Linked DNA regions of Homo sapiens: region 1 is linked to region 2. The links come from fine-mapping of genetic effects on gene expression. Tissue or cell type: lymphoblastoid cells. Region 2 holds a variant in brackets; the other region holds the start of a gene. All regions are shown on one strand. Distances are from middle to middle.

Region 1 (8,182 bases), 160 kb before region 2:
ACACAAGCTTTTATTAAGGTGAGACTACTACAATCAGATAAACTTACATCTTAGCCATGTAATTTTCTGCTGCTCCAAAGTTTGTCATCAAAGAAAGCAAAATAGGACAAGGTTAATACTGTGTTTACTAGACAGCAACTACAGCATTATGAATGTTCAATTAATGTTTAGACTACATTAGTGCACTTTGTAGCAAATGTACGATATTGGAAAACATAATGCACACTATTCAGAAGCAGTTCTTTTTCACTAAATAAAAATGTGTTGGCAACTGCTCCGTTTCCATGGATTTATGATTCTAATAGGTCCTGAAAATAAAGCCCAATCCTTGCCAAAATATCACTTATGCTTTATATCAGTAACATGCCCTCTATCTCTGCTTATGCATTTGAGAAACAGAAAAACAACGTAATTCGTTAAAAATCCACTAATTAGAACTCCAGAGAACTGATTTTGGGAAGGGGAAGATGTATGGGAGCTGACACCTAACCTATTTTATTTTTATGGAAAAAAGAAAATTACACAAAATTATGTGAAATTGAAAAAAGAAGCAAACATTTTCCAGAGTATGTTTGAAAGTGTATAGTTCAAATTTAAACCATTTTTTAACATCTAATGGTATTAAATCACTTTAGGAGAACTCAGTCAGCAAGAAAGATACAATTCTCTCCAATGTTCTACTTACAGAGAGAAGCATATTGTATATTTAATTCTTAAATTCTGGTGCCTGCAATACAAAGAGGAACCAGGAGATTTAACCCCTAGTTAACTAAAATATCAAATCAACAGGCCCGGGGCAGTGGCTCACACCTGTAATCCCAGCACTTTGGGAGGCCAAGGCAGGTGGATCACCTGAGGTCAGGAGTCCAAGACCATCCTGGCCAACACCGTCTCTACTAAAAATACAAAAATTAGCCGGGCCTGGTGGCGCACGCCTGTAGTCCCAGCTACTTGGGAGGCTGAGGCAGGAGAACTGCCTGAACCCGGGAGGCAGAGGTTGCAGTAAGCTGAGATCGTACCGCTGCACTCCAGCCTGGGTGACAGAACAAGACTCTGTCTCAAACAGACAAACAAAACTTGAACCCCATTCCTTAAATAACTGGGTCTTAACCTTAGCTGCATGTTAGCATGATCTAGGCATCAAATTCTCAATGCTCAGGTCCCATTCCAGACCAATTAAATCAGAACTACTGCTACTTAAAGAAACAAAAACAAAAACTCCACAGGTGATTCAATGCGCTGCCCAGATTGCTATCCACCACCTGGGATACTATAGTTATTTTAAGTTTTAAACCAGATTAGCTTAAGTCACAAATTAAATCTCTACTGCTGGATAAAAGCATATTTGCTAAGTGATCTTTAATTTTACCAGAGTACTAGAAAAAGAATGAAATCCAAATGCCTGGTTAACATTGTATCTGATGGTCTTTCAATTCTGGGGTGGCCGTGTAATCCAGTTCTTGGCACTGAAATAGAAGGGAGACTCCTGTTGGGTCTTTTCCTTCTGGGATAAAAGGACGGAGCCCCACTGGGAGGAAATAGTGGATTTCATTTCTTTCTGCACTTTCACTAGCCCTGAACTCTTAGATAAATATGGAAACTGAGGAGTTCATCTTGCAATCAAAAAGCAGTAAATGGGACAATAAAAAGTCAACGTTGAGGATGGTGGTAGAACAGAGACTGGAAGAGCGTGGGTCTTTGATGACATTGTTGTGTCATTGAACCACAACAACCAAGTACCTTCCAAATTTTTATGTTAAGAAAATGATTGCTTAAGCCACCATTAGCTGAACTTTCCGTTATGTGAAGTCAAACGTATTTCTTTTTTTCTTTTTTTTTTTTGAGGCAGAGTCTCACTCTGTTGCCCAGGCTGGAGTACAGTGGCACAATCTCCACTCACTGCACCTCCGCCTCTCCAGTTCAAGCGATTCTCCATGCTTCAGCCTCCAGAGTAGCAGGGAGTACAGGCATGCACCACCACACCTGGCTAATTTTTGTATTTTTGTAGAGATGGGGTTTGGCCATGTTAGCCAGGCTGGCCTCGAATTCCTGGCCTCAGGTGATCCACCTGCCTTGGCCTCCCAAACTGCTGGGATTACAGGTGTGAGCCACAGCGCCCGGCCCCAAAGTATTTCAAATGGGTACACCTTGGTTCTCTCTTAAGCTACAAATCACTCAACATTTACTACTGGCTAAGAACTTTAAGATATTATCACTTTTAAGCCTCACAGCAACTCCAGAAACAAGTGTTGTTATTCCCATTTTACATATGCAGAAACTGAGGCCCATACAAGTTGGCTATCTTGTCCTTGGCCATACAGAATTTAGATTGTAAGCCAGGTTCCTTTGATTCTAATCTCAATGCTCGTCATTGCATTGCTATAGTACTGTTATTAACCTCTTGGATGTGTGCAAGTCTAGTTGCTCTGATTAAATTGTGTATCACGCAAGAAGAGCATCTTAGGCTTGTAGGAGTACACCTAGTGGTCTACATTTAGATCATTAGATATTTGAAGAATTAATGGGTTTGCTTGACAAAAAAAAAAATTACAGGATAAGCTTTTTTTGTGCTGTTCTGCAAAACCACACGATGCTTTCAATTCACTCCAAAAAAAAAAAAAAAATCCAAATCAATCCACTTTCACAGAAGACTTGATAAAAAAGTTTTTAATAATAATCAAGGGCTTTGATATGTGATAACATTTTTTTTTTCCTCCCTGGTGAAAAGGCAAATGAATAGCAGGGTTTTGGTGCAGATGCTTAAGGCAACTGCATGGACCTATCTTCAAGGATATGGGGTGCTGCTGTCTGTCGAGTTGAAAACACAAACGTATCCCTTCCCAGGGTTGTGTGATAGGGTGTATTTTGCGATTTTTCTTTCTTTTTGGCCAGCATTTACTTGTCAGGTGTTTCAAGGTGTCTAATATCCCCACTACTATGCTATTTGCCCAAAAGGCACAGCTGATGGGCCTCCTGCAATTCCTGTTCCATATTCTCTTCTCTTAGCATTTACTGAATTATTGAAAGCAGTACGGAGGCAGCCACGTTGAGTTTAGAGTCAGGCTCACTGGACCAAAGCTACTATGTTTTGCCTTTCTCTGTAAAATGAGAAAAGACCTATTTAAAACGTTCTTATGAGATTTAAATGAGCTGAAATGTAAACTAGTAACAGTTAAGGTAGACGACAAGAACTTATCAAGTATCTATGTGCTGCATAGTGAGATAAGTGCCTGGAAAGTAATGATGGCCCCTGTCATCAAGAAGCATACAGTCTACTAAATTACCAGTTTCAACTCTAACTCCTTAGTGGCCAGAAAACGGAGTAAGTTGGAAGACAGTAAAATCTGAAGTCTGGCACCAGGGATCAAGTGCCAGTTCCTCAACTTTACAGATGCAGTGGGTTGAATAGTCTCCAAAAGATATGTCTATGTCCTAACTCCCAGGACATGTGAAAGTGACCTTATTTGGGAAAAGGGCCTTTGCAGATGTGATTAAGGACCTCCAGATGAGATGATCTTGGATTATCCCCGTGGACTCTAAATTCAATGTTCAGTGTCCTAAAAACACACAGAGAAGTGGCACAGGCACAGGAGAAGGCCATTAGAAGACAGGCCGAGATTGGAGTCATGCAACAAGAGGCCACGGACCGCCTGGAACCGTTAGAAGCTGAAGAAGCAAAGCATTCTCCCCTAGAGCCTTCAAAAGGTGCAGGGCTCTGCCAACAGCTTGATTTTGGAATTCTTGCCTCTAGAACAGTTAAAGAATAAAATTCTGTTGCTTGACACGAGCAAGTTTGTGGTGTCAGTTTCTTCATCTGGAAAATGGGGCATATATCCTAACCACAATCTTATTTCCTGAAGTATAAAATGGAATAACAGCAGTTTCCAGGCACGAGCAGACACTAAAAATGGCAAACATTTATTGAGAGCGTTCCATGCTAAGCGCTTTGCACGTATCACTTAATTATTTCTATTTTATTGATCAGGAAGCCAAAGCTCATAAAAACTGTAATTTTCCCAGAGCCACACAGCTAGCAAGTGAAAAAAACGGGATTACAATTCAAATCGACTCACAAGATACCCCTTTTATCCTCCACGCTGGACTGCTGAGGAAGTATGCAAATTAACACACTTTAGAAACTTTAGCTACTTCAATATTTGTTCAGGCTACGGGATGCAGGCCTCTTATTAACCGCGCCAGCCAGGTCTGTCCTTCAGCAGCCTGTTCTGCCTCGCAAGAGCTCTCCCTCTCTTTCCAGCACGGAAGCCACAGGGTTAATGACGTCATTTCCCGTGGCCGTTGTCGCGTCCTCCGCCCGACGGATTCTTGCAAGGGCCAAAATCCTCGCGCCTCAAGAGGAGGCATAACAGCAGCGGACCAATAGAAATTCCGAATTTTTGTATTCTCTGGGAAGCTCCACCTCTTAGTCCCTGATCCGCCGCGGAAGATGAAAAAAAGCGGCCCGGGGGCGGAGCAAGGCAAGGAAGCGGAAGCGGAGAGGCGGTCGGGATCCGCTGCGCGAGCTGTCTCGGTCCCACGTGTGCGGTGAGTGTGGCAGGCTCAGCGGTCGCTCTTGGGAGGGGTTCGCACCCTGCCGGGCGCTGGAAGTCGGGAAGGTCTCTCGGGGCTGTTGTCCACTGGGCAGTCTCCTCTGGCCTCTTTCTGGGCTAGGAGTTTGGGACTGACTGGAGCCTGGCAAGAAGGGCGGGACTGGCCGGGCGCGGTGGCTCACGCCTGTAATCCCAGCACTTTGGGAGGCCGAGGCGGGCGGATCACAAGGTCAGGAGATCGAGACCATCCTGGCTAACACGGTGAAACCCCGTCTCTACTAAAACTACAAAAAATTAGCCGGGCATGGTGGCGGGCGCCTGTGGTCCCAGCTACTTGGGAGGCTGAGGCAGGAGAATGGCGTGAACCCGGGAGGCGGAGCTTGCAGTGAGCCAAGATCGTGCCACTACACTCCAGCCTGGGAGACAGAGCAAGACTCCGTCTCAAAAAAAAAAAAAAAAAAAAAAAGAAGGGCGGGACTCCGACCTCTCTCCCACCACGTTGCCCTGCGTGCCGGGTTAGAGTGGACTAGCTTCACTCCGGAATCCCAGCCCGTGCTCGGCCTGATCAGCCTGTCTGTGCTACTTCACAAACCCCAACTCCAGTGCTAGGCGGTTTGCCTGAATGTACGCAGATTCTAAGTGCTGGGAGGAAACGAACTGGATGCTGAGTTGGCAGATAGTGGAGTCTGAAGAAGTGATCTTTAAACGGAGATTTGGAAGCTCAGGGAGTACTTCAAGCAGAGGCGATAATGGGCTAAGTTCCTGAGATGGGAGCTAGGAAGGAGTATAGTTAGAGTACAAGATAAAGTTAGCCGGATAGAGTGGAACTAGGTTCTGTAGGGCCTTGAAGGTCATGATGGGGAATTTTTTTTTCTGTACAATAGGAAAACATTTCCGTTCCTATTACCATGTGTAGAAAACATTGAAGACTTGTAAGCAAGTGAGAATCATGAATAGGCCCTGGTTCTCTTTAGAAAATGTATTACATTTGGAAGCTCAAGAGATTGTATTGGTAATAGTTTGCATTAGGGTGGTGACGTAAGGGACATTTAAGAGAACTAACTTATGGTTCAGCGTGGCAGAGTAGAGAGGAAAATGTCAAGGGTAACTCAGATTTCTTACTTGAGCAGTAAAGTAGATGATGTGCCATTGGCTGAGATGGAGGACGATAGGGCAGGGAAAAATAGTATATTGTTGTTTGTGGGGCAAACAACAATAACATAAAGAACAACATAGAGAATTATGTTTTGGACATATTAAGGGTAAGGTTCCTGTTAGACACATAATTAGAGGTATCAGATAAGCAGTTATACACAAGTTTGGACCCCAAGGAGAAGTTCATAATGGAGACATGATTTGGGAGTACTCAGCATAAAAAGCCAGGAGATTGGATGAGACCACCTAGGGAGAAGTGTGGAGAGAGAAGGGAAGTTCCCTAGGGCAAAGATTTGAGGAATGCTAACATGTAGAGGTTGGTCTATAAGAAAATGTCATTTAAACTGAATTTGAAGGATGGGTAGAAATTGTGTTGGTAGAGAGAATGGCTTTAAACTTCACTATTCTGATAAGAATAGTGGCTCCTGTGTGGTGGTGATGAGTGGGGTGAATTAAGACCACATTTTGAATGGCTGTGAATGCCTGAGTTGGAACTTTTTCCTGAAGGCAGTGGGAAAGCTTTGAAGCTATTGGAGCATGGAAATGACATGAAATAGGTGTGCTACTGGAAGGTTAATCAGGCAGCGGAAAGTGGATCAAAGCAGATAGGATCTAAACAAAACTGAGCAAGAGGTAACAGGAGCCTGAATGGGGTAATAGAGGGAAAGGAAAAAGGGGGGCGAATTCCAAGAGACACTATTGAATGTGATGATTCATTACGAAGGTACAGGGTTCCCAAGCAAAGCAAATTGCATTTTGCCCAGTGCAAAAAGCAAGACTCAAAAAGTTACATATTGTATGATTCCATGTATAAGAATGCCATTCTGGAAAAGACAAAACAGGAGTGAAAACCTAATCATTGGCAGTCAGGAAAGAGGGAAGGAGTTGAATACAAAGGAGCTGTACCAGGGGACTTTTTAGAGTGACAGGACTTTTCTGTAAGATACTGTGGTAGTGGATGCATGAGTCTTAGCCATTTGTTGAAGCCCGTGGAATTATACACCAGAAAGAGTAAACTTGACTATATGCACATTTAATAAATCTGCCAGCATTTCTGGGGATGGAATGCAGGCTGTGACAAATCAGTTAAACTATATTATAAACATGTAACTTCACTAAAGAGGGTGAGGGGCCGAAGGGCTGATCTAAGAACCTTTTTTTTTTTTTTTTGGCCTGCAGCAGTAATTGCTGCAGGCAGAATACACTGACTTGAATGCTAAAGTTAGCAAGTAAAACTTAAGAGGAGGTAGGATGTCCATATATTCTCCAAACATCTTGTCTGAAATGTTTATTAATTGCTATGGTAGTTTAACATTTGAAATAGAGTCTCACTCTGTTGCCCAGGCTGGAGTGTAGTGGCACAATCTCAGCTCGCTGCAGCCTCTGCCTCCTGGGTTCAGGTGATTTTCCTGCCTCAGCCCCCTGAGTAGCTGGGATTACATGTTTGCAACACCACCATGCCCAGCTAAATTTTGTATTTTTAGTAGAGATGGGGTTTGGTCTTGAACTCCTGACCTCAGGTAATCCACCTGCCTCAGCCTCCCAAAGTGCTGGGATTACAGGTGTGAGCCACCATGCAAGCCTCTAAGTAACTTTGGAAAAGTATTTTGAATGGATACAAAAAAGAATTGTACGTCAACACTGTACTGTCATTGTAAATTTATTTCTCACGGGGTACAGGTTAGCAATTCTGAAACTATGCATGTATAGTAGGGTGGAATATGTGTATAAATAAATTGTAGATGGTGGGAAGCAGGTTGCTCACTGTCAGAGAAGGAAGTTACAAATGAGCAAGAGGAGATGCCTGGAGGAAAATATGTGGTGCTTGATTAGATTTGGAAACATCAGTATGAGCTTCAAGTTATTGTAATAGATATAAAAATAAATATAGGTATGTGCATATGCATAAGTTAATATACATATATGTGTTTCCTGAATCTGTCTGCCGAAAGGACATAGAAACAGGGACACCTCAGTGACAACAAGTGCGCCTAGCACTCAGATCTTGGTTTTTAAATACCATTCTCAATGAAAGGAACCAGGATTCCTTGGAGAAGTGGCTGATTTCAGGGCTAGGTTAAGGAAAATACAGAAGGAACCTGGAGCCAGTGCCAGGAAATAAGGATGTGCTTTAAAAGCAAAACAAAACAGTTGGGCCGCGTCAAAAGGACACAGAAGCAACCTGAGAAACTTCCCCCTGGCTGGAGCTAGCATTATTTGAGCAACAAAATAACAGTGGTATTGGATTATAACCAAGGAATGAAATAAATATCTGAGACTATATGATACAAGTAAATAGATGGAAAAGATGGGACAAGTCTTCCCTACAGAAAAGTTGAGAATAACAAAGGCAAAAGTAATAAGAGAAATAGAAGATCACCATTTAAATGCAGTAATTGCTGCAGGCGATATCCACCGACAAATGCTAAAGTTAGCAGGTAAAACTTAGGAGGACATAGGATGTCTACATATTCTCC
Region 2 (8,182 bases):
GGCTCATGCCTGTAATCCCAGCACTTTAGGAGGCTGAGGAGGGCAAATCACTTGAGGTCAGGAGTTTGAGGCCAGCCTGGCCAACATGGTGAAACCCCATGTCTACTAAAAATACAAAAATTAGCTGGGAGTGATGAGTCACACTTGTAATCCCAGCTACTTGGGAGGCTGAGGCAGGAGAATCGCTTGTACCTGGGAGGCAGAGGTTGCAGTGAGCTGAGATTGCACCACTGCACTGCAGCCTGAGTGATAGAGTGAGACTCCATCTCAAAAATAAATAAACGAAATTAAATCACATTAAAGCAGTTTGGACTATAAGGTCTTAAAAGTTTTGTGCCTCAAAACTTTGGTGATGCCGTCTTTCCCAGTGGCGCTTGTCTTGTCCTTTTGGCTGACCTATTTTCTTTTCTCCTTTTACTGTGGCCACTCTCTAAGATTCCTTGTTTCTAGGGTCCTTCATTTCTCATAGCTTTGGGGAATTCAAGCCCTTGAAGTGTCACCTCAGGATTGGGTTGCCCTGAATGCCTCCCAACCCATCCTCCTCTCCTCAGTCCTTTCCTAAACTCATCTGCCTTGAATGCAACAACCAGAATTTTCTTACTTTCAACCTTTTACTCAATAGTTTCCAATTATTTTCTCCTTCTCAAGCTTAAGCCTTCTCAAATTGGATCTGACATCCACTTTTATTCAAATAATGTTTTTATCTTATGAAAAAAAGAGATCCATTTAGAATAATAATTGGGGCAACCTCAGTCAACTGAACTTGGAATGAGTATAACCTTCAGGGATAGCAGCCAATCATGAAACATTGCATGGATGGGGTAGCACAGAAAAGCAAAAGTCAACTTGAAAGGATTGCAGTAAAGGCAAGAGGGGAATTTACTTGATAATATAGCAAACTCAATGTTGAAGTGACTATAACATCAGGAGTTATTATTGGAAAGAAGATAATAGGTAGCACTGAAAATGTCATGGGCCCTATGTTTCTTCCTAACCAATGATTCGTTTTTCACTGGACTTACAACAGGAAGTAATTCATCCTGTTATAAAGAATGTAACATTTCCTTCCATTCACATAGCAGGCTGGAGTTTGGTGATTTTACTGGAAATGATGTTTTTTTTCCTTGGAGAGAATTCTGTTTCTATGAAGCACATACAGCTGCTGAAACCAATCTGAAACAGGTTAGAGAGGAAGAGAGGCTCAGCGGCATACAGGATAGCATGAGTTTAACTGGGAACATGTCAGAAGCAGCCAGCAACTTTTTTTTTTAAACAGGGAATATTGAGAGTAAGCAAAGCCTGCTTTTACAGAATTCAACTGATGCATTCCCAGTTAAAGATATTGAGATGGTATGTTAGCAAAGTCTATGAACTTCTTCTGTTAAGTAACTAGAACAGAGAGGAGAGATTTGGACATGTCAGCCAGAAAATGTGGCTCCTATGGAAGAGAGTGAAGGTAAGGTCAGAAGACTATTCCCAGTCCCACTGTGTGTGTTCTTACCTCTGCCTTAGTGATGATGGAATTACATAGCTATTGTGAGTCACTGTGTGCCTGTCCTTTATCACTCATTGTACTGAGGATAAAATCATAAATTGTTCACAGTTTTCATCATAGTCATTGTCAGTAAAATTCTTTTGTCATCTTCATTATGCCCAAAGTTCACCCTTCTCCCTTGCTGCCGTTGATTAGAGGTATTTGGAAAAGATGAGCCCTAGTTGATTTTCAGGTGCCAAGGTAAGTGGAAAGTGCGTCTTCAAAATGCTCATTTTTCCCAACTTCCTTCCATCAGGAGGTGCTGCATCTCACAGAAACAAATTGCATTTTCCATGTGGACTCTCGTTGGATATTAGCTGCCATCTGCTTTGTGCCCTCTCCAGAAACTACTACAGGTCCCTGTCATGGGATGAACTGTGTACCTTCAAAATTCATGTGCTGAAGTCGTAATCCCTAATCCCTCAGAATGTGGCTATATTTGGAGAGATAGTCTTTAAAGAAGTCATTAAGGTAAATGAGGTCATTTGGGTGAACCCAAATCCAATCTATGACTGGTATCCTTATAAGAAGAGATTAGGATACAGACACACAGAGAAGGAAGAACATATGAAAACATAGGGAGAAGGTGGCAATCTACAAACAAAGGAGAGAGACCTGAAAAGAAATAAACTCTGCTGATACCTTGATTCTGGATTTCTAGCCTGCAGAACTGTGAAGAAATACATTTCTGCTGTGTAAGCCACTCAGTCTGTGGTACTTGGTTATAACAGCCCCGTATTATACTAATACGGTATCCTTTCTGCCGCCTGCATTGCTGACTCCTGAATGTGGGGACATAGGCAATTGTGTTTGTTAGACACACAGAAAGGACAGATGTGATCTACATCAAGCCTAGACTCCTGCTCCTTGTTTTCTAGGTTCTCTCCAATCTTCCTCTCCTCTTCTGCATTCCAAGGCTTATCTCTCTGGCATGAACTTTACAGGACCATCAGACAAGGTTCCTTCCTGTCTTGCTCACTGCACCTCCCGTATACATTGCTAAGTTCCACTCCTCCAGTGTCCTGATGTGGTCCCTTCTCCACCCAGCCCCCAAAGCCCAGATTTCAATTGCTCCTCCACTGTTCTCACCTTCTGCTAGACAGGTACCCTGCTTTGTAATTGGTATGACACCATTTCAGGCTTGAATTGTCTTTCTTCACAGCCTTTCCAATTTTTTTTAAAAGGTATATTTAGGCTTACACAGGTACATAAAATGAAGCAAGATAACATACATTTGGCAATGGTGAAAAAGGAAAACAAGGTCAGAGATAAATTAAAGGGAGCCAGGAATGAAGCAAACATCGGAGAGCACGCTCATCTTGCTACAGATTTGGCTCACTTTTCAAGAAACCAACTTAAAAATGGAAACTTTACAGTTACACAATTCACACTGTATATAAAATGGAAACAAACTGATTGCTCAGAAGTAAAACTGTTCCTGATATTATCGAAAGAAGTATATTTCTCCTGAGAGTTCTAAAACTGCTTTATGTAAGAATGGCATTTTCAGCATCTTCACAGTGGCCAAGTGATGAGGTTTTTTGAATGCTGTCACAGCATTATACCAAAGTTTAATTCAGTTAGGCTACAGTAAGTCCTCAGTTAATCCAAGGCCTTAGATTTTCAAGGTCTTAGAGGAAGAAAGGGATTACGTATGCTGCAGGCAGTTCATCATATTGCTTCTTTTAAATGAGCATCGATCAGTACTGGATAACAATGAGCAATGAATTTAGCAATGGCAAAAGCCTACAAATAGAATTCTGGCTTGCCAAGTAAGTTTTGATTGCTTGTGTTAAAGGCGACAAAAGCCAGGAATAGGCCAGCCATGGTGGCTCATGCATGTAATCCCAGCACTTTGGGAGGCCGAGGCGGGTGGATCCCCTGAGGTCAGGAGTTCAAGACCAGCCTGACCAACATGGCAAAACCCTGTCTCTACTAATAATACAAAAATTAGCTAGGCATGGTGGTTCATGCCTGTAATCCCAGCTACTTGGGAGGCTGAAGCAGGAGAACCACTTGAACCTGGGGGGTGGAGGTTGTGGTGAGCTGAGATCATACCATTGCACTCCAGCCTGGGCGAAAGAGTGAAACTCTGTCTCAAAAGAAAAAAAAAAAAAAGAACCAGGAATAAAGATACGATTCCATTTGACAGTGCTCTAAAGCCAAAGACCACCAGGGATGCACCTGAAGTCAAACTGAGTTGGGTTTTTCTTGGCCTGTTGCACTGAGGGAGGCTGCATGTCAAGGGGACACATAGGTGGAAGGCACAGAGAGAAGGTGTGAGAGGTTTACATGATGGGATCTGAGGTGGTGGTAGATGATTTTGGAGAGAGTTCAAGGAAACATGAGTTTGCTCTGGATACGGTGCTGTCAGGAATTGGGCCAATTCTGACTGGGTATCTGAATTTTTATCAAGAAGGCAGGAAGAATAAAGTGTGATTAAAGCTGTGATTATTAAGAAGCTATAGTCTCTCTCATAAGCTGAGAGAAATATTTTGGTAGTTTTCACAGTGGCCTTATTTTTGTCTGTGCTCAGACATGACTATGGGGTGAATGTATTTCTGTCTCACTTTATCTCAGTGATAGAACGGCCTTGTCTAGCATTGTTTTCCATAGTAGCAATACCAAGACCTAACTGCTAGTGCCAGCCAGCTCCCAACTATCAGGGGCTGTGTTTCTTTCTCCCACTCTATAGACTGAGGAGCCTAATGAGTAAGTATGGATGAAACGAAGGAAATGCCTTCAGAGAGACAAGATTTTACCCTAAAACTTTGGTTTGAATCGGTGTAAACATACA[G/A]GCAAATAAGGAAATTGAGACCTCTCTTATTTCTTCTAATAAATAATTTAATCATCTAAGTCTTAGGGCAAACCCCTCCCCCAAGCAATATCAAGCTTAAACTTTGATTTTGCTCTTGGCATATAGATCCTGGAGCCTTGGATCATCTGGCTTAGCTGCAGGGCATGTGCTATGTATGAACTTCCCTTTAGCGTTTACAGATTATAGCTGTGACTTCTTCGTGTTACTTATTAAAAATGTAACTCCTTTTTTGTTTACAAAAGCCGAACTTTATATAAACTATTAACTCAAAAAATTATTACTAAAATATTACATTATAGAAAGTATGAAACAGGGAATAAAACCTGTAATTCCATTAGCAACACTAACCCAACTATAGTTATCTTGCTTATTCCTCTAACGACTCTAACCCAACTACTGTAATCTTTGTTTATTCTATCTTTTTCATGAACATTTAAAAATAGTTTTAATTATACTGCATAACATTCTATAATTTGCTATTTTACTTTATAATGTGTTGTTTTTCCTTACATCTGTGCTTTTCCATGTAACTATGGAATCATTTTAATGACTGTTTATATTGGCTGCATAAAATTTCACATAAATTTACCATTTTCTTACTTATATTTCTGATAGAAATATGTAATTATTTTCTTTTATTTCTGTTTTACTAGCATTAGAATGAAGATTTTCCAAGTTTATAGAATTATCTTTTTCTTTAAAAAAGATAATTTCTGGGTCTTTTCAACCCAGAACTTTTCAAGGTTTTCTCTTCATGCTTGAAGTTTGGGAGTTTTGCCAAAATATGGATAAATGTCTCCCTTCTTTCTATAATAGTGCCTGAAGTTTATTAGGCATTTTCAATTTAAAAACTCAGTTTTTTTTTTTAAGGGAAGGTTTTTTTTAACTTCTGCTTCTTCTCCATCTCTTCACTTTTTTCTTTTCTTTTTCTTCTCGTGCTGGTTTCCTGGGTCTGCTTATGTTTTTCCTCAAGATTACTAGACCTTTGTATTTTTTTCCTTGAGGATATACTTATTTTATCCTTTTGATCTTCCAGGCCATTGAATTTGAATATCATCAGTGATCATCGTTTCCTTAAATTCATCTAGTGACTTAAAAAAAAATGAATGCATGTTTTCTAAGAAGTCTTTTGTTATGTGCTGAATTTGAATCCCTTTAAATACTCTTTTTATCATTTACTTTTTCATTTTTTTTTTTTTTTTTTTAGTACATTGCCCTCTGCCTGTTCCAGTCAGTTTTATTTCATGAGGGACCAGCTAATCCTTGTTTATTTTTCCTGTCTCTGATTGTTGAGCCCCCTTAGCATCTGGTTATTTTTCTTTGCTGATCATTGGAGTTCAGTGGCTAGGATACCTTAACTGGGATTGAGGGTGGGGTGAGATTGTCTGAGAAACAGAAGGTGTGGTGATCTGACCCTGAGAACTGGCTGGGCTGCAGTGAGAAGTCATCAACTCCCTATCATGGCATGAGGAAGGGTGGAGGAGGAGGGAGGTTCTCCGTGGCTTTCCCAGCCTCAGGGGGAGCTCTCCGTCCACCCTCACAGCTCCTCATGAGCTTCTCTGGGCCTGGCGAGACTGGCCAATGTCAACTTTGTCAACTTTCCCTACAGAGGTTCAGCGATCTCAGGAGATCAAGCTATTCCCAGGAGCTGGCTGCTTCAGATCCTTGCTTTGGAACTACCTTCTGCTGCCTCTGCCTCCCAGGCTCCCACTTGGCCCAGAGGGTGGACACACCACACTGGTGTGCAATGTGTGTAACGTGTGTGTGCAGTTTTGCCAATTCACTGCCTGAGTGGATGCTAGGCTGAGGGGAGTGAGAGAAAGCTGAGGAGGAGCTGTGTGTCTAGGAAAGGCAGGAGACACCAATGCACTATCTTTCTAGATTCTCCTGCTGCCATGCTTTCTAGAATTATTTTAAATATTTCAGCTCAGTTATTCTTTCCTATAACTTTAGAAGAAATCATTCTGTGAATTTTTCTTGGGGTGGGGGAAGGAGGTAAATTAGCATCTTTCAAATATTTACTCATGGAAGATATGGCTCTATATTAATTCAAGCCTTCTTTATTATAAGTTTCATTATTTTTTATGTATAAAGTCACACACTTTTCTCATTAAGGTTTTTTCAGATACTTGGTATGAATCGTATTTCTTTTATTTTTCTCATTATATTTTCTTTTTAAGTATGTTCATATTAATTTCAAGATGCAGGCCGGGTGTGGTGGCTCACACCTGTAATCCTAGCACTTTGGGAGGCCGAGGTGGGCAGATCACTTGGGGTCAGCAGTTAGAGACCAGCGTGAACAACATGGTGAAAACCCATCTCCACTAAAATTACAAAAATTAGCCATGCCTGGCAGTGTGCACCTGTAATCCCAGCTACTTGGAAGGCTGAAGGGAGAATCGCTTGAACCCAGGAAGCAGAGGTTGCAGTGAGCCAAGATCGCGCCACTGCACTCCTGGGAGACAAAGGGAGACTCTGTCTCAAAAAAAAAAAAAAAAAAAAAATATATATATATATGTATATGTGTGTATATATATGTGCGTATATATGTATATATACGCACATATATGTATACACGCACACACACACACACACACACACACACAAAAGGGTAGAAAGTAAAACCTAAGTCTTCTTCCTGCTCTTGTTTTTAAATGCCAGTGCCCTTCCCCAGAGGAAACTATAGCTGTTAGTTGCTATAAATTCCTTTCGACCGGGGGTGGACAAACTTTTTCTGTAAAGCCCCAGGTAATAAATGTTTTACCCTTAGTGGGTCATGAAGTTTTCATCACAACTATTCAATTCTACCATTATTTTGTGGATAGTATGAAGAGTGTGTCGGCCGGACATGGTGGCTGGCGCCTGTACCAACATGGTGAAACCCTGTCTCTACTAAGAATATAAAAATTAGCAGGGCAGAGTGGCACTTGCCACTAAAAAAAAAAAAAAAAGAGTGTGTCTGTGTTCCAGGAAAGTTTCATGGACATTGACATTTGAATTTCATATATTTCATGCCATTATATTCATCTTTTGAATTTATTCTTCTATTTATTTTTTTCAACCATTAAAAATATTTTAAAAATAAAAAAACAGGTAGTGGGCTGGTGTTGGCCTTTGGGCCAGTTTGCTGACTGCTGTTCTACAGGCATTCCCTGCATATTCAAGCACATGTAGATATACTATATTTTTCTTCTGTTTCTTTGTTAATTTGTCTGCAAACAGGCTCCATGTCATATGTATTGTCCTGCACTGAGCTTTTTCTATTAAGGTTTCTTGGTGATCATTCCACGTGGGTTCATAGAATTACTTCTTTTGTTTTATTGGTCATGTGATGTTCAGGCATGTGTCATGATACATTGAGGAGAATTAAGGCTGTTTCTTTTTTGTTGTTGTTTTCTCTTTTTTAAAAAAATCTCTTTCTTTTTTGAGACAGAGTTTTCCACTGTTGCCCAGGTTGGAGTGCAGTTGTGCAGTCTCAGTTCACTGCAGCCTCCACATCCAGGGCTCAAGCGATCCTTACACCTTAGCCTCTCAAGTAGCTGGAACCACAGGTGCATGCCACCACACCCAGCTAATTTTTTTTTTTTTGTTTTAGACCGAGCCTTGCTCTGTCACCAAGCTGGAGTGCAGTGGCGCGATCTCAGCTCACTGCAACCTCTGGCTCCCGGGTTCAAGTGATTCCCCTGCCTCGGCCTCCCTAGTAGCTGGGACTACAGGCACATGCCACCACACCTGGGTAATTTTTTCATATTTTAGTAGAGAAAAGGTTTTGCCATGTTGGCCAGGCTGGTCTCCATCTCCTGGCCTCAAGTGATCTGCCTGCATCAGCC

Evidence for each region. PIP is the estimated chance that this variant, and not a neighbour inherited with it, causes the effect.
Region 1: it holds the start of PUM3, and the variant in region 2 is fine-mapped to the expression of PUM3 in lymphoblastoid cells (GTEx, PIP 0.98).

Annotation. Positions count from the first base shown.
Region 1 is chr9:2,840,408-2,848,589 of GRCh38, reverse strand. It overlaps PUM3 (pumilio RNA binding family member 3), which reads left to right and starts at 4,495. Exons shown (of 18, transcript NM_014878.5): 1 at 4,495-4,545. RefSeq lists enhancers at 4,164-4,403, 4,227-4,521, 4,905-5,466.
Region 2 is chr9:2,684,774-2,692,955 of GRCh38, reverse strand. LOC105375957 (a long non-coding RNA gene) reads left to right here. Exons shown (of 3, transcript XR_929436.3): 1 at 1-8,182. Among named protein-coding and RNA genes, the nearest start is that of KCNV2, 29 kb to the left of the region's middle. The variant G/A (reference allele first, on the strand shown) is at 4,332.